4 linked regions of the Homo sapiens genome follow. The protein of the gene in region 1 interacts with the protein of each later gene in a pairwise test. Each region holds a gene or a part of one and is shown on either strand. Other genes may lie near its edges. The genes, in order: NEIL2, REL, HOMEZ and MEOX1.

Region 1 (4,250 bases):
CTGCACTTTGGTGGTGGTGGCTTCCTGGCATTTTATAATTGTCAGTTGTCTTGGAGCTCTTCCCCAGTGGTCACACCCACCTGTGACATCCTGTCTGAGAAGTTCCATCGAGGACAAGCCTTAGAAGCTCTAGGCCAGGCTCAGCCTGTCTGCTATACACTGCTGGACCAGAGATACTTCTCAGGGCTAGGTATGACTCATGGGAAAGGGGTGAGTCCACAGAGTTGCTTCATGGAAAAGTCGGTCCTGTGGGAGTCAGAAGACCTGAGGGCCACCCTAGTTGTGCCAGTGCTGTTGGTTTTGAGGTGCCACTTGCTCAATCTCCTTTCTTTTACTTCCCTTGTTTTTAGACTGAGGGCATTAGATCAGGCAGTTTTTAACTTGTCTCTCTGCTTCAGAATCCACACCCTAACTGTGTTATCAGTTGTGAGCCCTCTGCCAGCAGCGTTGGAGCATCACCTCCTAAAGGGTGGGGTCATGTCTCCGGCACCTCTGTACCCTCCACTGCACAGTGCAGCGCCTGCACGTAGGAGGTGCCTGACCTGTGTCTGTAGGAACTGAAGTCGTGCAGGCTGCTAACAGAGCAGTGAGCGCGTGTTCTAAGGGATGCTGCTCTTGGGTGGATGGAGCTTCCTGCCCTGGCCAGGGCACAGAGATGACTCAGTCTACACTGGGTTCTTATGCGACGCGAGTGAAGAAGCTGTTTCCCTCTCTCTATTGCAGTGGCGTGAGCAGTGAAACTGTGAGCATTTCAGGATAGGGAGAAGTGCTGAACAATTTCAAAAATACATATAACAGCTAATTAGCGGGACTATGACAGCGTGGCGTTCTTATTACTCACAGTAGGGGAATAATTGTGCCCAAAATTGGTTGCTGAAGCAATCAGGCAGGTTGGTGGTGACAGAGTCATCTCCATATCCAACATGTGGCCTTGCTGCCTGCTCACCACCCTTCACGAGGGTCGGAGGAGGCCAGGTGGTACAGCAGGCACTTGCCTTGCATTTTCATGTTAGGACCATGGGAGTCCCTGTGCACTCAGGAGCGAAGAGCCGTCGGAAGTGGCTTTTTGGGTATATATGGCAAGAGCTAACAGTAACAGTAGTAATTAATAACGGCCAGTGTTTTCCAAGCAGCTCTGATGTGCCAGGCACATGTTCTTGTCCTTACTGCTGTCCTGTAGGATGGTTATAGTGCTTTTCCCTTCCTTCAGATGAGGAAACTGAAGCAGAGAACACATCGCTAGTAAATGGTGCAGCTGAGATGTGAATCCAGGTGTTTTGTCAATGAATTCTGGAGAGACTGATGTGTGTAATGAGGAGTGTGACTATGAGGCTCTTGGAAACAGCAGGAATTTCCTTCACCCACTCACTCCAAACACACAGACACTCACTTGAGCTCTGTCACGCTCACCACCTCTCCTTAAGGAGATCATTGTATAATGGCCCAGCAAGCATGGACTCAGTCCACTGTGGGTTACTAAAGATTGCAATGAATGCCTGGTGGAGCTGAAAGAGTATGGTTGGAACATTCCCAAGAGAGTTACTGATTCTGGAAGGAGGGATCGAGGCTGGCTTCACAGAGAATGAGGCAGGAGTAGAAAAATAATAAGATAACAGCTCCCGAAACACTTTCTACATAACAAGCATTATGCTTGGTATTTCATTTATTTTATTTTTTGACACAGGGTCTCTCTCTGTCACCCAGGCCAGAGTGCAGTGGCACAATCACAACCCACTGCAGCCTCAACCTCTGTGGCTCAAGCGATCCTCCCACCTTAGCCTCCTGAGTAGGTGAGACTACAGGTGCATGACATCACGCCTCACTAATTTTTAAAATTTTTGTAGAGACAAGAAGCTCTCACTGTGTTGCCCAGGCTGGTCTTGAACTTGTGGGCTTAAATGATCCTCCTGCCTCTGCCTCCCAAAGTGCTGGGATTACAGGCGTGTGCCACTGTGCCTAGCTATGCTTGACATTTTGTTTTTAATTTAAAAAAAAATTTTTTTTGAGACAGGGTCTTGCCATGTTGCCCAGGCTGGAGTGCAGTGGCACAATCTCAGATTACTGCAAGCCCCACCTCCCAGGTTTAAGCTAGTCTCCTACCTCAGCCACCTGAGTAGCTGCGATTACAGGCAGGTGCCACCATGCCTGGCTAATTTTTGTATTTTTGGTAGAGATGGGGTTTCACCATGTTGTCCAGGCTGATCTTGAACTCCTGGCCTCAAGTGATTCACCCGCCTCTGCCTCCTAAAGTGCTGGGATTACAGGAATGCGCCAGGCCAACATTTTAAATAATAACAACAGTTAATACTTATTGAGTACTCTACATACCAGCCACTGTGCTCAGCGTCTTTTGGTGAATTCTCATTTAATGCTCACAAAAACCAGGTAAGCCATCCCTGCCTTACAGATAAGGAAACTGCAGCTAATTGAGGCTGAGGAGCTTGTCAGGGTCACGTGGGTAGGATCTGCTTGAGCTGCGATTCAAGTGCAGGCAGTCAGATGCCCGATCCGTTTTTGATAGCCTGTTTGCCATGACGGGCCATGCATGAGTTTCATTTCATCTTCACAGCAACCTTAAAGGTAGGAATTGTCAACTCCATTTTACAGACAGAGAAATGGAGTCAGAGATCGCAGACCCGTCTAGGGTCCCCCAGGACATGGAAGAGCTGATTTCTGCCTTGTTAACTTTGTGGGTGGTTTCATCATGCCATGTGTCCTTTGTCCTTCCCTTACCTTCCCCCGCTTTATTTCAGGGAACATCATTAAGAATGAAGCCTTGTACAGAGCTGGGATCCATCCCCTTTCTCTCGGTTCAGTCCTGAGTGCCTCGCGTCGGGAGGTCCTGGTGGATCACGTGGTGGAGTTCAGTACAGCCTGGCTGCAGGGCAAGTTCCAAGGCAGACCGCAGCACACACAGGTCTACCAGAAAGAACAGTGCCCTGCTGGCCACCAGGTCATGAAGGAGGCGTTTGGGCCCGAAGATGGGTTACAGAGGCTCACCTGGTGGTGCCCGCAGTGCCAGCCCCAGTTGTCAGAGGAGCCAGAGCAGTGCCAGTTCTCCTAAGGAGCTGGTGGTGCTCCTCACGGAACCTTGCCGCTTGGGGAACCTGACGTCTAAGTGTCCAGAAAGGAGGATGTGGGCAGGGACGGGGTACAGAGGATAGTGTGGGTCAGAGGTGCCAGTAGTATAATATTCGTCTCCCTGGAGTTATGTTGAAGGCAGAGTTTTCATAGGGTTAGATTTTTTTTATCCTTTTCTAGTTCAGTTAATTCATCCTGTTGAATTGCACCATCGTGAAAGATGGGAAAAATCGTGATGATGGGTAAGGGGAAAACTTCCCGGAAGGCAATGGGGCAAGGAAAAAGAAAGCCTATGGGAAATGGCTGTGCTCCCAACATAGCTTTGCAGATGATGTGGGTTTTTTTTTTTTTTTTGGTTGTTTGTTTTGAGAGAGAGTCTTGCTCTGTCTCCCTGGCTAGGGTGTGGTGGTGTGATCTTGGCTCACGGCAGCCTTGCCCTCCCTGGCTCAAGCAGTCTTCATCTCAGCCTCCAGAGTAGCTGGGACTACAGGCATGTGATATGATGCTCGGCTGATTTTTGTTTACTTTTTAGAGAGATGGGGTCTTGCCATATTTGCCAGGCTGGTTTGAACTCCTACAACTCAAGCATTCCTCCCACCTTGGTCTCCCAAAATGTTGGGACCACGGGTGTGAGCCACCGCGCCCAGCTAGCTCCTGTGTTTTGTTTTTGTTTTGTAACTTTGGTTGATGTTAAGGCCCTCCATTTTGGAAAGCAGGAAAACAGGATTTTTTTTTTTTTATCTTGTTCCCTGGAGGATCCAGGGATGAGGATAGAGTGGCCTGAGAGCAGTGCTTGGATTCAGCCTCCTGCTGGGTCCTTCTGCTGGATACAGGCACCAAGAGGCGGTCGTGGAGCAGGGAGCTGCGCCTTCCTGGGGTGCCCGGTGGTGTGTAGAGAAAAGCTGCTTGTTTACTCCTTAAGTCAATGTATTGGTGACTGTTGATTTGTTGAACAATTCAGGAATCAAGGGCTGTGGAGAAACTCCCTCATGTTGTTGGCAACAGGTGAATGAACCTAGAGCGGTGACATGAAAATAAAGCTCACTGTTACTCGCTGTTTTTGTCTTTATTTGGTAGTAAAAGGTCTTTAAATACCCAACTATTCATGGAGGTGGCCTCCAGGGCTTACTGGGTTAGCTGAGGAATCTACATAAAAGTAGCAGTGAGAG
Region 2 (8,584 bases), on another chromosome or scaffold:
AAATGTGAACTCAAGTCATTAAATTTAGAGCCTATGCTTTTAAAAATTGAAATCTATTAGAAAATTGTACATGTGTTGTACATAAAAATGACATACACAAGAGTATCTACTAAATGTGGATCAACATTTTAAGGATGAAATACCAAGAAACAAAAAAATGTTAAGATAGCTAGTTTCCATAAGAAATTTTACGTGCAAACTTAAAAAATGTTTTAATTAAAAATTTTACAGTTCTATAAAACTAGAAAAGCTCATGATAGAATATAGTATAATAGTTTGTTAAATTAGTATTTGAACCAGAAATCCAGTTCCAAAAGAAAATATTGCCTTTTCAAATGCCATAAGCTATAGCAATAAGTCATATTTTTAAAAAGCAAGACATGCACATTATTTACATAACAATTTTACTTTGCAAAGTATTAAATTTTGAAACACTAAATTTAGAAACATAGTTAAGCCCAAATTCCTTATTTTACAGGCAATAACTAATAAAACTGATAATGTATTTTGTACTGTTTTTATTTAATGACATTGAGAGTCTACTTAGCTATCACAACATTTATAAGTATCCCAGTATTAGCATTCTTATGCTTAATCTTTGAAACAGTGCATAAAAACACATCTGTACTCTGTACAACTGAAAGGTCAAAATGTTATGATACCAACACTTGTGTTACAGCAGCATACTCTACTGGCACTATTGTGTAGGCAATATGAGAGCTACCTCTTCAAAATCCATTTTTACAGCATTATAAATGTAGCATTCAAGATATTAGTGTCTCTCAATTGCAAAGATGAGTAATCAATATGCAAAAAAGATAAATTTGTAGCTAGATGTTCCTGGTAAGTTTAAAAACAAACCTATGTGAACTCTGTGAATGGATAAACAAAGTGTGGTATAGACCTACAATGGAATAAACTCAGCAATAAAAGAGAACAAACTGGCCAGGCGTGGTGGCTCACACCTGTAATCCCAGCACTTTGGGAGGCCGAGGTGGGTGGATCATGAGGTTGGGAGATCGAGACCATCCTGGCTAACACGGTGAAACCCCGCCTCTACTAAAAATACAAAAAATTAGCCAGGCGTGGTGGCGGGCGCCTATAATCCCAGCTACTTGGGAGGCTGAGGCAGGAGAATGGTGAACCCGAGAGGCAGAGCTTGCAGTGAGCCGAAATTGTGCCACTGCACTCCAGCCTGGGCGACAGAGCAAGACTCCATCTCAAAAAAAAAAAAAAAACAAAAAAACAAGCTATGGGTATACACTCCCAAATGAATGTATCTCAAAACCATGTTGAGCAAAAGAAACCAGATACAAAAGTATACTGTATGCTTCCATTTACATGCAGTTTTAGAAAAGATTAATCTCCAGTGACAGAAGGCAGATTAGTAATTGCCTGAGGCAGAGGCAGGGTAGGGAACTGAGCGAGAAGGGGACCAGGGAAATTTTAGGGGGTGATGGAAATGTTCCATAGCTTGATTGTGGTTATGTAGCAGGACATATTCGGGTAGATTTTATTGTATCTCAATAAAAGTTTATTTTAAATATTTTTAAATGGCACATAAAAGAAAAATAAACAAACTGGTCAATAAGCCAAAGTTCAAAAACATTTAGTCACATAATAGTTCTACTACAGGGAAGAAATTCTACTTACTTCTCAAAAAAAATCACTGTTTATGAGATTTTGCTTTGAATCTTCTCAATGTGTGGAAATACAATTACTACTGCATCAGAATTACTTTCATCTCTGCACAACATGGTTAAAAACTACTGACAGGCAAGAATCATGACAGATACCCGTTTTTACCCAATGCAAGATTCAGTGTAAGGCTGAAACCCCAGCTCAAAGCTTCTTTTCTATAAAGCCTAACTTCATCCTCTGCAATGGAGGGAATATTTCTCCTCTCTAAATCAGTGCAAGACTTGACCTATACCTTTCTTATGCCCTTAAAAGTTTTAAAATCTTACATGATAATCATTTATGTATGCCTCTTCTATCCTATTAGACAAAGTTTCAAATGAAGTCAGAAGGGATGTCTGATGTATCTCCACTAGGTGTTGAACCTAGTAGTGATATTTATTATACATTTTCTCAATTAACATAAATGACTGAAGAATTACTTAAAGTCCTATTGAACAACCAAACATTTAGATACTTTTACAAGTTACTGAAGAAAGCATAAAGTAAACGTTAATAAAAAGAAGTTCTACTTTGGTAATGATAGATGATAATCTGTAAACTGGACCAATTCAACCATGAGAATAAAGTGGACAAAATATGAAACAAAATTTCTCTAATGACATTAGAGAGCTAACAAGGTCATGAAAAACCATGCGACCAAGATATGAGAGAAGAAAACCCACAGTTCAGAATGAGAGGCCACTTTTATCTGAATATAGCCTGACAATTTTCTAAGAGATGGTTAAGAAGATTGAGATGAACTCTCAATAAACTATAGGGAAAAAATAAAGGAGTTGAGAGTTTGCCAAGGATGTGGGATCTGATAAATACCCAAGGCTTTGGGGGATTTGAGGTCTGAAAGAGCTATACCCTAGGAGTAAGGGTGAACTGGAAACATATCAGATTTCAGGGATGAAAGCCCAACTTCAAATAACCTAAATCATTCACTGATTTTAGGTGACCTGGGATTGCTAGTGTACCCGGCCACTAGCCAGAAGAAAATTTTCTGCAGGGAGATAATATTGTAGGCCTAAAATCTTTACTCTTTTTCACAGAAAATGACTGGTATTTTATCTTAAATAACCACACATATGAGGAGGCAAAATAAAAAATTTTTTTTTAAAAGAAAGCAACAGGCAATAAAAACATACCACAAAGGATCCAAATAATGAAGTTTTCAGACATATAATTTAAAGTAACTATACTTAATATATTCAAGGAATTAAGATTGAGAGTTTACTGGAGAACTTGAAACTGAAAAAAAGGAATCAAATTCTAGAACTGAAAAATATAATAAATTGAAATTAAGAATATAATCAAATTTATCAAAAGTTTTATAGAAAACACTTTGTGTCTTGTCTTTTTATACCTCAAGGATTAAAATGTTTACCAACATAGTCTACCAAAAGTTTTTAAAATGTTGATTCACTTTTAAAGCCTTTAATCCATCTTCAGCTGATATTTGTATATGATGTGAGGTAGGGAATCCGACTTAATTAAATAACTATTTTTTTTTCAAGCTTCATTTCTCAAACATTTCCTCCTTTCCTCTTGATATGACATGCCACCTCTGTCATACACTAAAGTCGCATATTTCCTTAGCTCTGTTTCTGGGCTCTCAATTCTTTTTTCAATAATTATACATTTTTATTTTATCTTATAAAAATTGGGTGAATATGTAGATTTAAATTGACAAAACTGTGTATTGAACAGTTTTGTCTTTTATAGCTTAGAAGAAAGATTTTGGGCAAAAATGAAATCTCTCTTTTGGAAATGATTTATTTCTATTTTATAATACTTCTGAGCACTGTTGCAACTTCAGAAGATCTTTTATATTTTTAATTTCAAATCTGCTTATATACACAGTAAGTCTTCACTTAATGTCTTCTAGGATGATGTCTATAGGTTCTTGGAAATTGCAACTTCAAGCGAAACAACACCATAATAAAACCAATTTTACCATAGGCTAATCAATATTAATAAGAGTTAAGTTTCTACGGCAGACTATGGGTCACAAAAACATCACTAAATTTATAAGACCAAAACGCTTGCAATATTAAATATTGAAATAAATCTGAGCTATACATACATTTAAGAAAGATTAATAAAAACAAGTTAAGATAATGATTTACCCAATTATTCCAGTTCAGGGTCACAGGTGATTGGAGTCTCTTCTGGGCTCTCAATTCTACTCCAATGAGTCAATCTATCTATTCTTATCCCAATATGACACTGCCTTAATTAGTATTAATACTTCTATCTGATGAGGTCAATTTCTCCTCATTGTTCTTTTTCTATATTCTGTTCCTGTTTAGAATTATCACATTTAATATGGAGTTGCATTGAATCTACTTATCAATTGGGGGAAAATGACTTTTTTTTTTTTTTTTTTTTTTTTTGAGACAGTCTTGCTCTTTGCCCAGGCTGGAGTGCAGTGGCACGATCTCAGCTCACTGCAACCTCCGCCTCCCGGGTTCAAGTGATTCTCCTGCCTCAGCCTCCCGAGTAGCTGGGACTACAGGCCTGTGCCACCACGCCCAGCTAATTTTGTATTTTAAGTAGAGATGGGGTTTCATCATCTTGGCCAGGATGGTCTCAACCTCTTGACCTTGTGATCCGCCCGCCTCGGCCTCCCAAAGTGCTGGGATTACAGGTGTGAGCTACCACGCCCGGCCTGGGAAAATGACATTTTTACAATATTACTATTAGAGAACACGGAATACCTCTCCATTTATTTAAGTATTCTCTAAGATCTCATAATAAAATTTTATAATTTTCCCTAAAGAAATCTTATCATTTCTTTGATTTGTTTCTACATACTTCATATCTCCTGACAATATTTGTTTTAATGATGTTTTCCAGTTATTTGCTGCTGAGATATGGAAATATGACTGACCTTTATATATTAATTTTACATCCACTAACCCTTTTAAACTTTATTTTTTATTCAGTCTCCAAAAAGACTGTCAAAAATTGCCAATGCTGACTATACTGCAAGTCATGACAGCAGGATATTAGGAAAAAGTTTTCAATTAACAATAACCACTCCTAAGATAAACCTCACTTGGCTATACTGCCAATGCACAAAGCTCACTCTTTTAAACTTATCTAAATAATCCATTTATATATCTTTTGGGTTATCACTATAATAATTTCAAATAATTATAGTTTTATTTCCTCATTTTTCAATCCTATGCCTCTACTTTTTGGGGGGTCTTACTGTACACTGGCTACAATGCTCACTGCTCTGGCTATGACCTTCACTACGATGTTGAATACAAGTGGTAAAAGTGTGCCTTGGTTTCTCATTCTTAACTTCAAAGCGAATGTTTCTGATATTTCTCTTATTTAGGATAATGCTTGCTGTAGGCATTTTAATAGATACATATCATTCTATAATACAAAATGCAGTGTTTTATTCTGTAATGTCAAAATTGATACTCAGTTTTGTTTGTTTTGTTTGAGACAGAGTCTCACTCTGTCGCCCAGGTTAGAGTGCAGTGTTGTGATCTTGGCTCACTGCAGCCTCTGCCTCCAGGGTTCAAGAGATTCTAACGCCTCAGCCTCCCAAGCAGCTAGGATTACAGGCATGCACCACCATGCCTGGCTAAGTTTTGTATTTTTAGTAGAGACGGGGTTTCACCATGTTGGCCAAGGTGGTCTGGAACTCCTGACCTCAAGTGATCCACCCACCTTGGGCCCCCAGTGTTGGGATTACAGGTGTGAGTGGCCGTGCCTGGCCTGATACTCAGTTTTAACATTTGCAGAAACTAACGGAAGGAAGCATGAGACCAATCGACTTCTCTCAAATTCCTCTTAAACTAGTTTAAAATTTCACTTTGTAGTTAGTCAAAATATAAGGTAATAACTGTTCTCCTGTTCTCCTTCCTTTTTATGTTTTTTTTTTTTTTGTTTTTTGTTTTTTTTTTGAGATGGAGTCTCACTCTGTCACCCAGGCTGGAGTGCAGTGATGTGAGCTTGGCTCCCTGCAAGCTCCGCCTCCCGGGTTCACGCCATTCTCCCGTCTCAGCCTCCCGAGTAGCTGGGACTACAGGCGCCCGCCACCATGCCCGGCTAATTTTTTGTATTTTTAGTAGAGACGGAGTTTCACCCTGTTAGCCAGGATGGTCTTGATCTCCTGAACTCGTGATCTGCGCACCTCAGCCTCCCAAAGTGCTGGGATTACAGGTGTGAGCCACCGTGCCCAGCCCCTTCCTTTTTATGTTAAATGTTTAATCTACCTTTAGAAAGAAATATCACTCCTTTAACCCTAAAATCAGTAGGTGTGTAATGAGAATTTCATTCTTAACCAAGAAGATATTATCATGCTATATTTTTCATAAGCAGGAATTAAATTTTAAAAATCAATTATGTCTACTAGCTCTAGAAGTGTAACATTTCTAAAATTCTAATACTGTCAAACACTACTGAAATAAAAATAAATAACAAGGCAAAAATACACAGCATATGGAATAATAATTTTATTTTTTTTGAGATGGAGTCTTGCTCTGTCGCCAGGCTGGAGTGCAGTGGCGCCATCTCAGCTGACTGCAACCCCCGCCTCCTGGTTCAACTGATTCTCCTCCTGCCTCAGCCTCCCAAGTAGCTAGGACTAGAGGTGCACGCCACCATGCCCAGCTAATTTTTGTATTTTTAGTAGAGATAGGGTTTCATTATGTTGGCCAGGATGGTCTGTATCTCTTGACCTCGTGATCCGCCCATCTCGGCCTCCCAAAGTGCTGGGATTACAGGCGTGAGCCACTGCGCCCAGCCTGGAATAACAATTTTAAGAACTATGTCTCAGTCGGGCATGGTGGCTCATGCCTGTAATCTCAGCACTTTTGGAAACCGAGGCAGGAGGATCACTTAAGCCCAGGAGTTCAAGACCAGCCTGGGCAACATACGGAGACCCTGTCTCTACAAATAATAGAAAAAAAAAAAATGAACTAAGTCTCACTTAAGGAAAAATATAAAATTTAGTTATAATTAATTTACATTTTTGTTACTTAAAAAGTATATAAAGTATCCCCTATGTATAATAATAAAAGTTGACATTTAAGTGTTCATGTGCCAGGCAAACAGTAAAGGTGCTAGAAGTATACTAGAAGTATATCATTAATTTACTCAACCTTTCAACATACTTATTGAGTATCTATTATGTGCTACCATAGTAAAGTGTTAGATACAAATTTGAAAAGACAATGCCTGACCTTAGTGAGATGAGTATCTGGATGAGAAATAGATACATAAACTAAAATTATATAATACAACATGAAAAACTTTATAATGGAAATATGCTCAAGGAATACTGAAAGCAAGAAAGTACACAAGTTCTGCCTAGGGTAATGAAAAAAAGGCTTCGAAAACTCTGACTGCAATAAAGAAAGGACAATGAAGTACACATGAGCCATTTTTTCAAACTTTAAGTTTTCAGTTGTAAGGAAAGGCTTTTTCTTGTATTAGACCAGACTTTAGAGATAAGAATCTATGTTAGACTACTTATTAAACTGTATTCCCTTTCAGACTACTAAGTAATGTAGTTTTCCCAAACTCAACTGTATAGCAGCCTTTTACTCTCATAACAACTCAAGATTCTCTACATGGGAAAACAGTAAACTACCTAATAAAACTTAATTGCAAATTCTTTATTGTCAAAATCAATTTTATTGCACAAAATTTAATATACAGTTTAGATATTCTATGGAGTTTAACTGCCGCATACTAGAAATCCTAACATTTCATTACCAAAGTACATAACTAGAAAATGATATATAATTACAAATTTTTTTCAGCTTTTGCAGTTAAGAGTCCTCTACAAAGTCTAACTGCCACTCTTGTTCTAGCTAAGTAAACACTGTTAAAATCTGATATTGGAGTCCCTAATTAAATTCCTCACCCAATTTAGACTTTGGCAATTAGACAATTTGAATAATCCTTTACTTGAAGCCTCAAATTTGACAGTATTAGACTGCTTTATGCCCCGTTTGCTAGAGACTGTTTCTTAGTTTTAAAGAACAAATGGCAAGAAAGATAAAGGCCGGCCTTAAAACACACTAGTTGGGGAATCTATTGTGTGCAGGTAGGAAACTCAATAGCTCAAGGCACTTAGCTGAGAAGATAGAGATAACAGTAAAACAAATACATTGTTTAGGTGCCAAAGTGAAATGGAAACAAGATTCCATCACAGACCCTGTCCACAAGTAGCATGAAATTAATATTTTAAGAAAATTCCTGAAGAATCAAATGATCTAACAGATAACACAAAACTTTCAATGATTAATTGCTGAGTATACCGTATAATTAGGAAGATGTTATCTCAGACTTAAGAGAACTGAGAAGGCTTTCAGGGCATCTCAGGTAAGGAAAACAACTGTGATATTTTTGGTAGAAAAGTACAAATAAGGCGGGGCGTGGTGGCTCAAGCCTGTAATCCCAGCACTTTGGGAGGCCGAGGTGGACGGAACACGAGATCAGGAGACCGAGGCCATCCTGGCTAACACGGTGGAACCCTGTCTCTACTAAAAAATACAAAAAAATTAGCTGGGCATGGTGGCGGGCACCTGTAGTCCTAGCTACTCGGGAGGCTGAGGCAGGAGAATGGTGTGAACCTGGGAGACAGAGCTTGCAGTGAGCCGAGATCACACCACTGCACTCCAGCCTGGGCAACAGAGCGAGACTCCGTAAAAAAAAAAAAAAGAAAAGTACAAATATGACATGTTCGTCCATTTATTCTTTCAACCGTTTTAGTTTGTTTGTTTTTTTGATACGGGGTCTCACTGTCACCCAGGCTGAAGTGCAGTGGCACAATCTGGGCTCACTGCAACCCAGCCTGATAGGCTCAAGTGATCCTCCTACCTCAGCCTCTGGAGCAGGCTGGGACTTGCAGCACGCACCCATGCCCAGC
Region 3 (9,295 bases), on another chromosome or scaffold:
TCCATTACATATGCTTTTTATTTTTACCTTTACCTGTCCTTTTCTCTGCTGATGCTTTTATTTGCTTTCCTTAGAACTTCATCTGCCTCCTCTGGACAGGGGATTTTTTCTTTCAGACCATCCCCAAATGGGCATTCAGGCCACACAAGAGTCCTCACCCCCAACAATTTTGGTAAGTTAAATAACATTTCCAAAGGAATGGAGCTTCAACTATAGACACATATACTAAAATGAAGATTTTCAAGATGACAAGATGTTGAGGTTTGCCCCCCAAAGAGCATTGTCTCTAGTTGGCTCCTTAATATTCTTTAAGAGCCATCCCATTTTCTTCAGAGTGAAGGGAAACTCTGGATTTTGCCTGGTTAGCACTCATCCTGTCACCAGTCGAGTCCTACTATTTAGCCAGAAGGTTGGCCTATAGGATTAAACTGGCTTCTCAAAAGTCCCTATATTGAAAATGCTGGGCGCTCAGTTCTGAGGATTATAAGGCCAATATCCATTCTTCTCCCCATCTTTTTCAGTAAAGGTGGTACCACCAGTCCTCTTGCTAAGAGGCTGCCATCTTCCATAGCTCACCTAAATATTTATATTGGCTATTTTCCCACTCATAGTTAAATCTCAGACCTCTCTGCCAGTACCTGGTCCTCACAGGAAAAGAACAGACTTTATATCCCATCTCTTAAATTGCTGATTGTGTTTCCCTTCTGAGTAGTGTTCCTTTAAGAACTACCTCATTACCCTGACCCACAAGTAACACTGCCGAGAAACTGCCCAAGTAAGTTATCTTTCACTGTTCCATTCTATCCTTCAGCTCAGAGGGAGAGCACAACTACACTAGAGAGTCTTCCTAGTTTCCAGCTACCAGTCCTGCAGGTGAGACCTGGCTAGTCTAACTTGTCTGTGCATAAAATCTCACATGGTTAGGCCTGCACACTAAATGCCTCAGGGTAGTGGAATATAACCAGTGAAGAACGACATGGGTTTCAACTCTGGTAACTATATGTTCACAATCTTCCAGAATGGTCTCAATTTCAGATTTTATCCTACTGTTAGATTAGCTTCCTGGTTTGGGGTTTTAAAATGAGGTCACATGGTAGTGGGAGGCTTTAAACTGAGAGGTCTTGGCCAGCGTGAAGTAAGTGTGGACACATGGACATCTTCAGTAGTTCCACAAGAAAGTATTTTCTATGAAATACATCTTTTGGGTAGGGGTACTACTTGAACTAGGAAAAACCACATTTACTTCTCCAGAGACCGCTAGAATAATATTTTATAAATTTATGGGACTATGATTCTGATTCCAGCAACAAAAGGTAAAGGGCATGGTAACAAGGAGAGGTTTGTAAAGAGTTCTATTAAATGAAAAGTCACCGGGGGCGGTGGTACATGCCAGTAATCCCAGCACTTTGGGAGGCCGAGGCAGGTGGATAACCTGAGGTCAGGAGTTAGAGACCAGCCTGACCAATATGGTAAAACCCCGTCTCTCTCTACTGAAAATACAAAAATTAGCCAGGTGTGGTGGCGGGTGCCTGTAATCTCAGCTACATGAGAGGCTGAGACAGGAGAATTGCTTGAACCCAGGAGGCGGAGCTTGCAGTGAGCCGAGATTGCGCCACTGCACTCCAGCCTGGGCAGCAGAGTGAGACTCCATCTCAAAAAAAAAAAGAAAAAGAAAGAAAAAAATAAAAGTCCAGTCTTGCCTTTTTTTGTTTGTTTTTTTTAATGGCTTGGGTTTTGAGCATATTTAGGCTCCTTTTTCACTCCAAGCTCCTGGTGTCCCTAGGCACAGTTCCTTCATACTAAGATAAGTATATATTTTGCTCCCATATTCCAAGATGCCCTTTATTTTCATCAGTAAGAAATTAGGGTCTAAGCCTTAAGAGGCAACACTGGGGAAGTAACATTCCTCCCTAAAATCCTCAAATGGAGGGATTAACCTAAGATGAAAAAAGACTTAAAAGCTCTATAAACCGTCTACAAATATATGGCCCCTAATTGGATCTTGACTGAAACAAGCTGTAAAAAAAATAAATAAAACAATTCATGAGACAGTTGAACAAAATTATCTATTGGACATTTGATATTAAATAATTGTTAACATTGGAGAGTTTTTTGGTATGATGATATCGTAGTTATGTTTTTAAAAATAGCCTTTCTCTTTTATAGGTACATACTAAAGTATTTATGGATGGAAAGTCAAATGATGTCTGGCGTTTGCATCAGTGTAATTTAGTAGGGAGGGACACTGGGAGAGTAGAAATAAAAGATTGGCCATTAATTATTTGTTAAAGATGGACAATGGGCACATGAGTTCATTATACTATTCTATGTATTTTTTGAAAATGTGGGCCAGGCGTGGTGGCTCATGCCTGTAATCCCAGCACTTTGGGAGGCCGAGGCGGGCGGATTATGAGGTCAGGAGATCGAGACCATCCTGGCTAACATGGTGAAACCCCGTCTATACTAAAAAAAGTACAAAAAATTAGCCGGGCATGGTGGCGGGCGCCTGTAGTCCCAGCTACGTGGGAGGCTGAGGCAGGAGAATGGCGTGAACCCGGGAGGCGGAGCTTGCAGTAAGCGGAGATGCACCACTGCACTCCAGCCTGGGTGACAGAGCGAGACTCCATCTCAAAAAAACAACAAACAAACAAACAAACAAACAACCGAAAATGTGAAAAAATTTTAAAGTTATTGAAGGAAATGCCACCTCCTCAGAGGCCTAAGAACTCTGCCTCCCTGGTAGTCATCTCTGGGTGTGGTAGTCATATGTCCCAGATTTTCCAAAATAGTTTAATTTTCAAATATTCATCCTTATTATTATCACCATAAGCTACTGAAATGTTCCAGAGATTGTCACACTAGATGTAGCAAATCCTAGTTTGGAAAAGTTAGTTATCATGCAATGAAGAAAACTATGGGGAAGCAAAAGCAGTGGTGTCTGTCTCGATAAGCTTCATACAACAGGTCAGAGAGACTTGCTTGCCCTTTTTGCTGTTATAAACACCCACATCTACCTTCTTGTCCTCTGCTGCAGACTCTCTACCAACAACGGAGGCATATGGGATTACCCAGTGGGAGAGAAGCATGGACCACTTCTAGATAGATCATCTTCAAGATCTGATCTATACATGCTGCTGAAGGATGGACTGTAGCTTCCAGTACGCATTAGGGGTGATGGCCCTGGAAAATGTATCCCTGCATTGTTTCCTAGTTTCACTCTGTACCTTATGCTCCCCCCATCTTTACCCTATTCACCCTTATCACCTCCCAGGACAGTGGTCAGGTCTTACAAAAGGCTAGTGCTTCAGGAAGATGTTTATATCTCTTCCAGAAGACACTGGTAGCTCCCCTCATTTCCTACAATTTGGAACAAAGGTCAAAAAAATAATTCTTGGCATCATGCTTGGTTGGGAGTTGGGAATGGGGATTGTGATGGATCATATACTCATCACTGTTTCATTTCTGGATTTCATTTTTAGCTTTGGATATACTGTCCCATTGCCAATGTTAACGAGCAATATCTCTGTTCTTTTCCTTATTATACTTTTTTATTTGTCTATTATTTCCTCTATGCTTAGTTACTATTAAATGTTAATTTTCCTTTCTATTGAAAACAACTGTTGGAGACACTGATTTTCAGCTTAGTATATAGATAGTAAAATAAAGACGATGCCCTTTTATTGCTACAATTCTATCACTTTTACAAGCTCTAGAATGGTGGAATGGGCGAACAACACTATCACTGAGATCAAACATGTATTCTACTTTGGGTTTTAAAAGGCAGAAATGACGAATTAAATAGGTTAGCCACTCACAAGCTGGCCTTAAGCAAAAATACTGGAAAAACAGAAAATAGCAGGCATCTGCCAGAAATAAATTAGGTCTTGGGAATGATCTTGTATCTGAACTAGGATCCCCATACCCTTTCTGGTACTCTGAATTTATTTTAAAGGCATTTCTAGATACCTTCTCTTTTAGGCAAGGGCCTGTCCTGTAGCAAATGGAGTTACCTCCAAGACTGTTGTATCTCTGTTACTCCTGAAGCCTCAGAAATTTTAGTCATTATCATTTGATGGCTGAGAAACAACCTGGCTGGCGATAGATGCTGAACTACTTCCTTTTTACAGTTTTTGTTCTTTTAATTTACCTCAATAAGTCCTGCCCCTCCAAACAATAAGTTAAAAGTATGCTGAGTTAGAATGTTAATGGATTTGGTTCCATTAATCCCTAAACCATAGGAGTGGCAAAGTGGTTGAGAGAGAAACAATTTTATTTTTGGCCTTTTTATTATTATTCTAGCATTTTAGGGCTTCCACTCTTTTATTTTTAGATGGTTAACTCATTGATGATACCTATTTGCCATATAGCTGATCCCAACTGATGAAAACCATTCTAAAACATCAATAATTAATTCACTTAAAGACGATGGTCCCTCTGTCCCTAAGACAGATCCTATCAAGAGAGGGAAAAGTCTCTTTTCTGGAAACAAATTGACAGCAAAAAGATGAAAAATTAGTCTCTGTCAAGCTGGACAGGAGGTAGTTAACAGGTTTGTAAAACCAAACCTGAAACCTACCTTCACTGCCCTTCAACAAGGAGAAACTATTCCCTCTCTTTCACCCCTTTGTAACACAATTCTACTGTTTAAAAGGACATCTTCCCTAATTACCACCTCCAATAAATATCCATTCTAAATTATTCTCCACCCAATTATTAAAGTTTTTTACAAGCTCGGTGGGGGAAGATTTTCCCTGAGACAAACAATGAACAGAGTGAGGATTTTGGAAAGATAGAAAAAGCTACAAGGCAAAGTGGTCACAGCATAAGAACTGAAAATAGCCGGGCACGGTGGCTCATGCCTATAATCCCAGCACTTTGGGAGGCCAAGGTGGGCGGATCATGAGGTCAGGAGATCAAGACCATCCTGGCTAACATGATGAAACCCGTCTCTACTAAAAATATAAAAAAGTAGCCGGGTGTGGTGGCAGGTGCCTGTAGTCCCAGCTACTCGGGAGGCTGAGGCAGGAGAATGGCATGAACCTGGGAGGCGGAGCTTGCAGTGAGCTGAGATTGCGCCATTGCACTACAGCCTGGGCGACAGAGCAAGACTCCACCTCAAAAAAAAAAAAAAGAACTGAAAAATTCTGCCACCTGTGATTTAGTCATGAAGCGGGTGAAACATAGTCAAGTTGGTATGAGGAAAAGGAAATATTAATATTTGTGATGAGACTGGGACTTATTGAGAATCTTGGTTGTCTAGGAAATGATCAGTTACTAAGAAAAAAGTAAGAGAGTCAGTTGCATTACGCACAGACTTGTGCTCAGAAAAGGGGTACAAGGCAGCCTTATATTCCAGGTAAGATGGTGGGATTGGGGATGCACTGGAATCATCAATCAAATCAGAATCCTTTACTCCTCCTTTCCAATCCTCCTGGAGAGGTGGTGCCAACATCTGGCCTCTGTATAGTACACCAAGGGAAAAAAACAGCAGACACGAGGAGAGCAAGAGCAGCTTCCCAGCCCATGGTTTCCCCAGATCCTTAGCACTCCCTACCCTAAGGTTAGAGGGTTGGATTTCTGCTGATCCAATCCCAGCCTTACTTAGTGCCCTATGGTCATTCTCCCTGGTCCACCCTCACTATATCCCCCTGCCACCCACCCTGAAGAACACAAAGCTTTTTAGTTCTCTGCCACAAGGTAATTTTAAAAATGTGGTTTCTTTGTTTAAACAGTTACTAAGTTGGTTCATCTTTCAGTAACAGACCTCCCCTCCCCCAGCTCCCCACTCAGTCTTGTATGATCACATCATCATCATCATCATCATCATCTTCCTCCTCCTCCTCCTCCTCTTCCTCATCATCTTCTGGCAGTTCTTCCTCCTCCTCTTCCTCTTCTTCATCTAGACAAACTACCACCTCAGCTGGCTGAGGTAATCGAGAGTCAAACCAATCCAGCACCTGCTGGGTGCTAAGCCTTGATGCCTGACTCAATTGAGGGATATCAGTTTCCCGTAGCTGTTGGTGGGCTGCCCAGTACCTCTCCAAGGGTTGTATATCCGGTGGGGGTGGAGGGATCGGCAGAGGTGGTGTCTCAGCCCTTTCGTTCAAGGAGCGGGTTGATGGTGGTGGTGTAGGAATTGCTGGGTCTTGGAAACTAGGGGCACCAGGTACTGCGTTGTCCCGAAACCACTTTAGTTGCCCATGCTTCAAGGCATAGCGTGTGTCACCAAACCACTGAATGATCTCAGGCCGAGGTAAACCAGTGATCTGTTCTAACTTTTGGTAATCCTCACGCCGTGCCCACTGGCACTGTAAAAAAAAGGATTTAAGGATAGCCAGCTGCTCTTTGGTTTTGCGCTTGGTCTTTCGCTGGCGTTGCATATCTGGGGAAAGGTACTCTGTGGGGCCAACTCTACCTGGTACTGAGTTATGCCGTAGCCCTTGGGGCCAGGCTGGTTCCAGATGTGGGGGTAATGCCTGTTCACTGGGTGACACTGACTGTGGGACACAGCCTAGTGGCTGGAGGGGTTTAGAGGCGGCAGTAGCTCCATTAGCCAGTACCTGGAAAGAAGAAGAGGTAGAGGAAGAAGAGGGAGTAACACTAGATGCTGACTCCTCCTTACAACTACTGGCAATTAATGCAATTGGTGGGGGTTTATCCCGAGCTTGTGGCTGGGGGACGGTTGTGGAGTGGTTCCAGGAAGCAGTACCTATGCCATGTGACTGGTTGGGACCCCTGCCTGCCTGCTCCTTTGAGAGGCCACTGCTTTGAAGATGTTGCCAAAAATCTGATTGGTAGGGGAATGCTCCACTGCCAGGTGTCATCAGGGACTCCTTTAATTTCTGGTGACTCTGTGGCAGTGGTGGCATCTGAGAGGGCTCCTCAGGCTCTACCTTCAATCCTTTCGTCTGGGTAGGCTTGCTAAGAGTTGGAGGACCTATTCCAATACCAACTTGCTCTGGAGCTGGCACTGGAGGAGGAGGCACCTCCTCTGGGGGCCGTCCCGCATGATGAGTAAAAGAGAGAAGGGATTTGAAATGGAGTTGGTCCCGACGGTAGACTACTCGGGCTCGAGTCTCTTCTATTTCTTCAGATGACCAGCTAATACCACAGCGGAGGCGCTGGGCCATAAACCAAGTCTTGACTTTCTCCATCTGCAACCCATAACGTAGGCAGAGAAGGGCAATGTCTGCTAGGCTGGGATAGGGAAAGTAGCTGAAGGTTTTGAGCAGGTGTTCATTGCTGTCTAGCTCACTGGTCTGGGCTGCTTGCGTCCACACAAGCTGTAGCTCCTCAGAGATTGGAGGGAGGCAGATGAGCCCCGCTGGTGAACTACTGAGACCGCTGGCCTCTTTATTAGGAGGCATGGTGCCTTCTGATTTGTGCCCTTCAGAGATAGCTGCAATAAGAAGACAAACAGCTCAATCACTGGGTCTCCTCTTCTGACACACTGCTCAATTTCTACCAAACTAACTGCTGGACACCAGAACAATTTAATCTGTATTTGTATCATGTTGTATTGCTTTTTAAGTGCCTCAACAATTTCTTATTTAATTTTCATAAACTTAAGTCATCAGACCCTGCTTTAATTCCCATTTTCTGTGGACCAAAGTCCATAGACGTTAAATTACCCCAAGCCACATGACTGGTGAGTGTTGTTCCAAGAAAAAAATCTGTCTTTAAAGCCAGCCATGGTGGCTCATGCCTGTAATCCCAGCACTTCGGGAGGCCGAGGTGGGAGGATTGCTTGAGCCCAGAGCTTTGATACCAGCCTGGGCAACACAGTGAGACTACAAAAAATTTAAAAATCAGCTGGGCATGGTGGTTCGTGCCTGTCGTCCCAACTACTTGGGAGGCTGAGGCAGGAGGACTGCTTGAGCCTGAGAGGTTGAGGCTGCAGTGAGCTATGATTGCACCACTGCACTCCAGCCTGGGTGATAGAGTGAGACCCTATCAAAAAAAAAAAAAATCTGTCTTTAGAAGTTAAGAAGGAAAACTGATCCTGATATAGCTTTTTTTAGTGTGTATGTGTGTGTCTGTGTGTGTGTGCGTGTGTTTTGAGATGGAGTCTCACTCTCTCGCCCAGGCTGGAGTGCAGTGGCATGATCTTGGCTCACTGCAACCTCCACCTCCCAGGTTCAAGCAATTCTCTACCTCAGCCTCCCGAGTAGCTGGGATTACAGGTGCCCGCCACCACGCCCGGCTACTTTTTGTATTTTTAGTAGAGATGGGGTTTCACCGTCTTGGCCAGGCTGGTCTTGAACTCCTGACCTCGTGATCCACCTGCCTCTGGCCTCCCAAAGCTGGAATTACAGGCATGAGTCACCACACCCAGCTGGTGGGTTGTTTTTTTTTAAAGAGATAATATTGCTCTGTCACCCAGGCCACCCAGGCTGGAGTGCAGTGGCACCATCATAGCTCTGATACAGCCTTTATCTTTCCTATTCAAACCCACTTCTAGAAGCTATCCACCAACTCTCACCTTCTAAATTCATGGAACAAGAATCACATAGTGAAGACTCAACCACAAAAACAAGAGGAGCAATAATTTCAACTGGTTTGTGTGTGTGTGCATTTTTGTTTTTGTTTTTTCAAGAGACAGGGTCTCACTCTGTTGCCTAGGCTGGAGTGCAGTGGCATGATCATGGCTCATTGCAGCTTTGAACTCTTAGGCTCAAGCAATCCTCCCACCTCAGCCTCCCAAGTAGCTAGGACTACAGGTACATGCAGCCATATCCGGCTAATTTTAAAATTTTTTGTAGACAGGGTCTCACTATGTGGCCTAGGCTGGTCTCAAACTCCTAGCCTCAAGTGATCCTCCCACCTCAGCCTCCCAAACTGCTGAGATTACTGGAGTGAGCCACTGTACCCGGCCCTCAGAATTGTTTGTTTGTTTGTTTGTTTTTGAGCAGGATCTTGCTCTGTTGCCTAGACTGGAGTAGAGTGGCATGATCTCAGCTTACTGCAGCCTCCGCCTCCTGGGTTCAAGTGATTCTTGTGCCTCAGCCTCCTGAATAGCTGGGACTACAGGCGTGTGCCACCATGCCCTGCTACATTTTGTATTTTTAGTAGAGACGAGGTTTTACCATGTTAACCAGGCTGGTCCCGAACTCCTGACCTCAAGTGATCCACCGGCCTCGGCCTCCCAAAGTGCTGGGATTACAGGCGTGAGCCACGGCGCCTGGCCAGAATTGTTAATAACTATTTTTTTTTTTGAGACAGAGTCTTTCTGTCACCCAGGCTGGAGTGCAGTGGCGTGATCTTGGCTCACTGCAACCTCCACCTCCCGGGTTCA
Region 4 (7,601 bases), on another chromosome or scaffold:
GCAGCCTGCTTCAGAGGGCTCCAGATGGCTTTCCAGACTTGGCCCTCTGGGGCAGATTCTGATTCCGTAGGTAGGTCTGGGGCAGGCCTGAGATCCTTCAGGTCTGAACAGCTCCCTGGTGCTACTGATGCTGCTGGCACCCAGGCACTCCTTTGAGTGGTGAGGTCTTAGAGCAGCGGACTTGACTGTGCACCAGACGCATCTGGAGGGTTTGTAAAAATAGATTGCTGAGTGCCATCCCCAGAGTTTCTGACTTAGTAGGTCTGGAATGAGGCTAGGATTTGCATTTGTAACAAGCTCTCAGGTAATGCTGATGCTGCTGATCTGGGGACCATAGTTTGAGGCTTTGTTTTAGAGCATCTCACCCCTCAAGCTTATGGCCACCAGTAATGTCATGCTGGGGGGTGGGCTGGGGAGTAGAGGTCATTAAACAGCCAAGAGTAGCTTCTTATGCTTTGGGAATAAAAGAAAGTTTGGGGTGGGGGGAGGGTGGGAGGCAGGTACCTGAGATTGGAAACCAAAAATAAAAAATCTTCCCAATTCTAATATGGGTAAGACACCAGAAGGAATAAAAAGGACAGTGTAGCTTTTTTCTCAGCATCCTGTAAAAATAAGGGAGACTGGTAAAGACTGCCTAGTTGCTCAAGGGCAAAAGAAAGGGAATGGAGTCTCCCTCAGCCCATGTCTTCCTGTTTGGGGTCCTCTCTCCCCAGACAACCAGGAGAACAGAGGGAAGCCGGAGGGCAGCAGCAAAGCCCGCAAGGAGAGGACGGCCTTCACCAAGGAGCAGCTGCGAGAGCTGGAGGCAGAGTTTGCCCATCATAACTACCTGACTCGGCTCCGCAGATATGAGATTGCGGTAAACCTGGACCTCTCTGAGCGCCAGGTGCGCCCCCGGTGGGCCCCTCCTCTTCTTTGCTCTCTCATCTCCCTCCCTTCCCTCCTTTCCCACCACCCCTCCCTGGACCTTCTCCTTTTTCTTCCTCCAGCCAGTCCAGCGGTTTTCAACTGTGGCCACACCTGAGAATAGCCTGGGGAGTTTTGGGTTTTTTTGTTTTTTGTTTTTTGAGACGGAGTCTCGTTCTGTCGCCCAGGCTGGAGTGCAGTGGCGCGATCTTACTGTAACCTCCACCTCCTGGGTTCAAGCAATTCTCCTGCCTTAGCCTCCCAAGTAGCTGGGCTACTGGCGTGCGCCACCACGCCCGGCTAATTTTTGTTTTTTTTTTTAGTAGAGGCGGGGTTTCACCATGTTGGCCAGGATGGTCTCAAACTCCTGACCTCAGGTGATCCGCCCGCCTCGGCCTCCCAAAGTGCTGGGATTACAGGCGTGAGCCACTGCGCCCGGCCCCTGGGGAGATTTTAATAGTGCTGATGTCTGGGCTCCACCCCTAGGGATGATTTTAATTGGCCTAGGATGGGATACAGGCCTCAGAATTTTTCAAAGGCCCCCTAGGTGATTCTCACATGCAGCTAGGTTGGGACCTACGGTCTGGCTATTCCCAAATTTGAGTATATGTTGGAATCCCCCAAGGCACTTGTTCAAAATGTGGATTCTGGAGGTCCGGAGAGAGATTTTACCATAATGAGTGGGCCTGAGAATCTGTATTTCTAGTACATTCTCCAGGTGATCTGGATATGCAGCTGGTTCCTGGGCACACTTTGAGAAAAACTTCCCTGGCCCTTTGTTTTGGACTTTCCCTTCAGCCACCCCACACCCCCACACCCATGCTCTGATACGGAATAATAGTAATAATAACCGTAATATTTGATAGCAGATTTCAGTTGACAGAGCACTCTGCCAGAGGGCTGGATATTGAATCAGAAGACTTAGATTCAAATCCTGCCTCTATCACTTTTCCTAGCCCTGGGACCTCTGGGTCTCCATCTGTAAAATGGGATCATAATCCTGCAGGTAATACTCAAGCTCAGATGAGAAAATGTGCTTACCAGAGCTATCTAAACCAAAAAGTGCTCTATAAATGTGCCTAAGGATAAGGCTGATGACCTCTGCTCCCAGACCCTTGGGGAATGGAGGTAGGGGGCAGGGGGACCTGGCACAGGCAGGGCAGGGCATGTGAAGGGGGTGGGGCCAATGCAGAGTGCTTTTAGAACATGTTCCCCCGTCTGGGGCTTTATCCGAAGCCACAAGACAGACCTCTGGGCAGATTGGTATGTCCTCTCTTCGGTCCTAGTTCCTGGGGCCTTTGAGGGAGTAGGGAGTGGTAAGTGATGGTTTCAAGCTGGGGTCCCTGGAGTTACACCCTGGCTAGCCTAAGCATTGACATGGGGAGGAGGTCACACCGGCCCTGGAGTGACCAGGCTCCTTTGCTTCCTCCCCCAGGTCAAAGTGTGGTTCCAGAACCGAAGGATGAAGTGGAAGCGTGTGAAGGGAGGTCAGCCCATCTCCCCCAATGGGCAGGACCCTGAGGATGGGGACTCCACAGCCTCTCCAAGTTCAGAGTGAGATTCTGCATGGAGGAAAAATGACTAAGGACTGAGCCCCCTACCCAACTACCCCCACCCCAATCCCACCTTCACCCTCTTCCTTCCCCAGCCAGGGCAGCCTCTCCACATCTTTCCCTGACTCTTGGATATGAAACTGCCCAGCATTCCTGGGAGTCTTAGGATTTTCTAGGAAGTTCTGTCCAGCCTCTTAGCAGCCTCTTCCCTAGGGCCTTTGCTCCCACACTCTCATGGAATCAGACAGAGATCCTACCGGGCCGGATGAATCTGGAAACAGCTTCAGAGATACTGCTTCTCAGCGTCTCTTGGCTGCCACCCATGCCTCCTCCTACCGCTGTTCTCCTAGGTCAGCCAGGCCTCCTCCTGGTCTGGACACCACCTGGCCTGGTGGGAGAGGAGCTTTGGAACCAGCTGGCGACTCGGAAAGTAAATGCTTCAAAAGGAAGGAAATGACAGAGACACACGCCCTTGCCCACCTTCCTCTGTAGGCTGCACATCTGAGGCTTTGGGGCCCCTTAGTTGTCCCGAAACCCCAAGAAAAATCAGAATGAGGAGAGTCAAGGACAGCAACTCAGCTGCTGCAAGCCAGAAACACATCCCTGTCTCCAAATTTGTTGGCTAAGTGGAGACACTTCTGAGAACTGACTAGAGAAGACAGAAAAATAGCCCGATGTAGGTTTCGGTGTCCCCATATAGGCCCGTCCACACAGGCTTGACTGGGTGGACAAGAATGAACCCATGACAGCACCTGCTGCTTCAAAATCAAAATCAATTTAGGGATACAGCAGGGGCTGTTGGGCTGTGCTCCAGAGAAAAGGAGCAGCTACTCCTTTTAAATCCACGATTTCTGGATTGAAAACCTGTCCAGATGCTGAGTTGTTGGGCTGAACAACTAGGAGCTGAAAACAACGTAGAGGCTGGAAAGTGTCCCCTGCATTCTGGAGGGGAGGGGAGATAATAAGGAGGGCTGCTGGGTGAGGGCCTGGAGATGTGGAACCCTGGAGTGGAAGGTTCTCCAGTGACAGTGTCCTGTGACTGCAAAAGGGGACAAGAAAATCCCTCTTCCTCCATGGGATGGATTTAAGCTCTTGCTGTGTGTTCTACAAATGCTGTTATTGTGGGAGGAAATGCTAGGTTTTTGTGTGTGGACTGCCCAGACCTCAGCCAGGTCTTCTGGAGATGACATTTGAGGACTGATGGCCAAAGAGCATGGGGGACTGAAGCCCTGGCTGCCTCAGCGCTCTGTCTCCCAACACCAGCTGGTGTTGCAGAGGGAGGTCAACGTGAGTTTGGATCTCTTGTACGCAGATGTAATCATTCACATGTAAAAATAACCCCACCTCCCCACCCCAAAAAGGGCAAGAGCTGTGGAAAATGATTGCCAAATGAGATGGCTGGTTAGAGCATGATTTTTTCTAAAGCATACTTCATATATTTTCTTAAGATTACATCAAGCTAATTGTGCGAGCTCAATTCACTTTGTAAGAAAACTCTCGGAGAAATAAAATCAATAAAAAGCAAAGTTCCCAGGCCTTTTTCTTTGCAGAGCGAACAACCACAGCTCTTGTGTGCAACCTTCTGATTGACCAGACAATGTCTAGAAGCAAGAGAAAAAGGGAAGAAATGATCTAGACAGAGCTGTCCCCCTTTAGTTTTTCAAAAGGTGGGTACAAAATATAATTGGTGCCAAAAAAAAATTTTTCTCCAATGCAAATGCATGGTCTTCATTTCTCATTGTAAAAGTTTAGCTTTCAGTTTCCCTAAACTATGACCTATCAAATAGTCAATGTTTTATAAACAAAAGATGAACTCTTTTGTTAATAAAGGAATCTTGACCACAAAGTAACCATCCCTAATGTTTAAATTCAAAGTTTGGAGATTTTATTTTTCAAGGTAGAAAAATGTATATTAATAGTAGTAAAAAATGACATAAGAAAAAATATCCCATATTTTGTCTTTTTTTTTTTTTTTTTTTTGAGACAGAGTTTCGCTCTTGTTGCCCAGGCTGGAGAGCAATGTCTTGGCTCACTGCAACCTCCACCTCTTGGGTTCTCCTGCCTCAGCCTCCTGAGTAGCTGGGATTACGGCCATGTGCCACCACGCCCAGCTAATTTTTGTATTTTTAGTAGAGATGGGGTTTCTCCATGTTGGCCAGGCTGGTCTCCAGCTCCTGACCTCAGGTGATCCACCCGCTTTGGCCTCCCAAAGAGCTGAGGTTACAGGCCTGAGCCACCACGCCTGGCCTCTATGTCTTTTTAACTAAAAAACAATTTGTCTCACCAAGATGTCAACAATGGACAAAACAGGACTGGCTACGGTGAGGGGAGAGAGGGAGGCAGGAGGGGAGACCTGGCCAGGATCTTGCAATGAGGCAGCCTGGGCCAGGTGTGGGCAGTGCCTGGAAGTGACATCACCAGGACCTGGAATCAGGCAGACCCACCAAAATGAAGGTGCCAAATGGAAGTGGGTTCAGTGGCTCAGGTTCAGGTTCACAGCCAAGCAACATGGACACGCTCAGTCACCCCCGTCCACCCTCCTGCTGGAAACTCAACTCTGTGGCTTCAGGGGACATCACCCTCTTCTGGCTTTCCTCATCTGTCCTAGATGTTCCTTCTCTGTCCCCCATGCAAGCCCCTTTCTCGATGCTTCTGCTCTCACAGCTGGTTCTCAAGGTTTTCTCTTTCTTCCGCCACCTTCCCTATTTTTCAATCTCTCCCCAGATGATCCCATCCACCTACTTTTTTTGTTTGTTTGTTTTTTGGGACAGTCTCGCTCTGTCGCCCAGGCTGGAGTGCAGTGGCGTGATCTTGGCTCACCACAAACTCTGCCTCCCGGGTTCAAGCGATTCTCCTGCCTCAGCCTCCTGAGTAGCTGGGATATGGCTAATTTTTGTATTTTTAGTAGAGATGGGGTTTCACCATGTTGGCCAGGTTGGTCTCAAACTCCTGACCTCAGGTGATCCTCCCGCCTCAGCCTCCCAAAGCGCTGGGATTACAGGCATGAGCCACCACGCCCGGCCTATGTTTTTTTAAATTGTTGTAAAATACTCTAACATAAAATAAAAGTTATCATTTTAACCGTTTTGAAGTGCACGGTCCCGTGGCATTAAACATTTTCTCATTGTTGTGCAGCCATTGCCACTATCCATCTCCAGAACGTTTTCATCTTCCCAAACTGAGACCCTTTGCCTATGGAACACTAACCCCTATCCCCTCCCCTTCATTCACCTGCATTTACATAGTGTTTGCGCCATATTGAGCACTGTTCCGCTTTACATGTACAAACTAAGTGAATTCTCTTAGCCATCCTAAGAGGTAGTACTACCGTCATTCCCATTTCACACATGAGGTAACCAAGGCGGAGAGAAGCTGAGTAAACTCCCAAGGTTTTATGGTGGTTAGTGTTTGGGGTGGATTGTATTATTGGGCCTGGTTATCTTCTTCCCTCTCCACTGGGGAACATGCCTCCCTGATCATTGCCATATGATGCACCTGCCGCGGTAAGGGCACACTTCCTCACCTAATTGACATCAGCTTGTCCTTGTGGCCTGCTTTGGCCAATAGAATGTGAGCAGAAGGATATGTGCTGTATCCAAGCAGAAGCTTTACGGGTCATCACACGGCTGTACTCCTGCTCTTTTCCCTCTGTACGAGGCTGAAATGGAGGATCCCTAGGTTCCAGAAGGAGAAAAACATGGAACAAAGCCAAAGCTGACCCCATAGCCTTCACAGATGTCAGTGAGGATATAAACATTTGTTGCTGTAAGCCACTGGGATTTGTGGGTCACGAGCTCGTGAAAACTGACCACTCCAGTGATGAAGCTGGGTTTGGAATTGACGCATTCTGGCCCCAGGCCAACACTTCCTATGCCTGATCTGGGTGCCTAAGCTTTTCTATTCTGCTGCCTACTGCCCTTTGCCACCTAGGATGACTATAAGCATCTCAAACTCCGATATCTGAAGGGGAAATCGCCATTCCCGCAGTTGGGTGAGCACCACTGCCTGCATTCTGATTCTTCTACTTTAGCTGGCAACACCACAACCTACCTGTTCATTCACACTGGAAACCTGGGGCACATCGTCATACAGACCTCTGCTTTTCCGAACCAATCCACTACCTGGGCCTGCTCATTTTACTTCCCACATAGATACTTCTCCCACCCACGGCATTGTCTTCCCACCACCACTGCCTTCCTTCTGGCTGCTGATGTCTCACTTGAATTAGAGCCTCTGAGAGCTCTCCCTCCTGATCTGAGGCTGCTCAAATCCCATCCCCTCTCAGCCTGTAGAGTGATCACAAAAAAAAATTCAACCCTGTCACCCCCAATTTAAAACCTATCGGTAGCTTTCCTCACCTACAAAATAAAGAGCCTTCACAGGTCTCCATGATCCAGCCCCTGACCACCTCCACAGCCGCAACCTACCACCTCCGCCACAAATCCTGGGCTCTAGCAAGACCAAGCCACCTTCCATTCCACAGCCATAGGCCATGTGATTTCTCCATTCCTTGGCTCATTCCCTTCTGTCTGGAGTGCTCTCCCACACCTGGAGCCCCAAGGACTTATGGATTCTAGGAGCACTCTAAAGGAACACGCAGGAAGTTTAAATATAAATATGGCCCAAGTTTTTTTTTTGTTTTGTTTTGTTTTTTAAGAGACTTCGTTTCCCAAGCTGGAGTGCAGTGGTGTGATCATGGCTCACTGCAGCCTCAAACTCCTAGCCTCAAGCAATCCTCCCACCTCAGCCTCCTGAGTAGCTAGCTGGGACTAAAGGTGTGAGCCACCATGCCCAGCTAATTTTTAAATGGCTTTGTAGAGATGGGGGTCTCACTATGTTGCCCAGGCTGGTCTTGAACTTCTGGCCTCAAGGGATCCTCCTGCCTCACCTCCCAAGGCCCTGGGGTTACAGGCATGAGTCACTGCACCCAGCCCAAACTAATTTTCAATAGTAGATCAATGCCTAACACGAGGCAGCAACATTCACCAATTTCTAAAACCATCAGAAAAAAACCTCAGTGTGAGAATTTTCCTTTCCCCAATAAACCCAGTTAATAAGCCCACTGAGGAGAGTTTGATCATGAAATTAAAAGTACATGCACACAGCAATCAAGAGGTTTCTGGTTTCTTTTGAACATTCCAT

Evidence for each region.
Region 2: the proteins of NEIL2 (region 1) and REL interact in binary tests that used the Homo sapiens proteins (3 or more experiments, as listed by UniProt).
Region 3: the proteins of NEIL2 (region 1) and HOMEZ interact in a two-hybrid assay, tested with the Homo sapiens proteins (one large-scale study listed by BioGRID).
Region 4: the proteins of NEIL2 (region 1) and MEOX1 interact in binary tests that used the Homo sapiens proteins (3 or more experiments, as listed by UniProt).

What each region holds. Positions count from the first base shown.
Region 1 is NC_000008.11:11,783,210-11,787,459, forward strand, and holds the end of NEIL2 (endonuclease 8-like 2), read left to right. Parts: coding exon 1-190; intron 191-2,753; coding exon 2,754-3,064; 3' UTR 3,065-4,136; downstream 4,137-4,250. UniProt on the Homo sapiens protein: Involved in base excision repair of DNA damaged by oxidation or by mutagenic agents. Has DNA glycosylase activity towards 5-hydroxyuracil and other oxidized derivatives of cytosine with a preference for mismatched double-stranded DNA (DNA bubbles).
Region 2 is NC_000002.12:60,907,490-60,916,073, reverse strand, and holds part of REL (proto-oncogene c-Rel), read right to left. Parts: intron 1-8,584. UniProt on the Homo sapiens protein: Proto-oncogene that may play a role in differentiation and lymphopoiesis.
Region 3 is NC_000014.9:23,269,789-23,279,083, forward strand, and holds the end of HOMEZ (homeobox and leucine zipper protein Homez), read right to left. Parts: intron 7,400-9,295; coding exon 5,787-7,399; 3' UTR 3,104-5,786; coding exon of another isoform or gene 3,035-3,103; 3' UTR 2,634-3,034; downstream 1-2,633. Other genes in the region: E3 ubiquitin-protein ligase RNF212B, read left to right, coding at 75-172, 812-873, 3,035-3,103. UniProt on the Homo sapiens protein: May function as a transcriptional regulator.
Region 4 is NC_000017.11:43,636,773-43,644,373, reverse strand, and holds the end of MEOX1 (homeobox protein MOX-1), read left to right. Parts: intron 1-713; coding exon 714-886; coding exon of another isoform or gene 887-897; intron 898-2,341; coding exon 2,342-2,464; 3' UTR 2,465-3,985; downstream 3,986-7,601. UniProt on the Homo sapiens protein: Mesodermal transcription factor that plays a key role in somitogenesis and is specifically required for sclerotome development. Required for maintenance of the sclerotome polarity and formation of the cranio-cervical joints.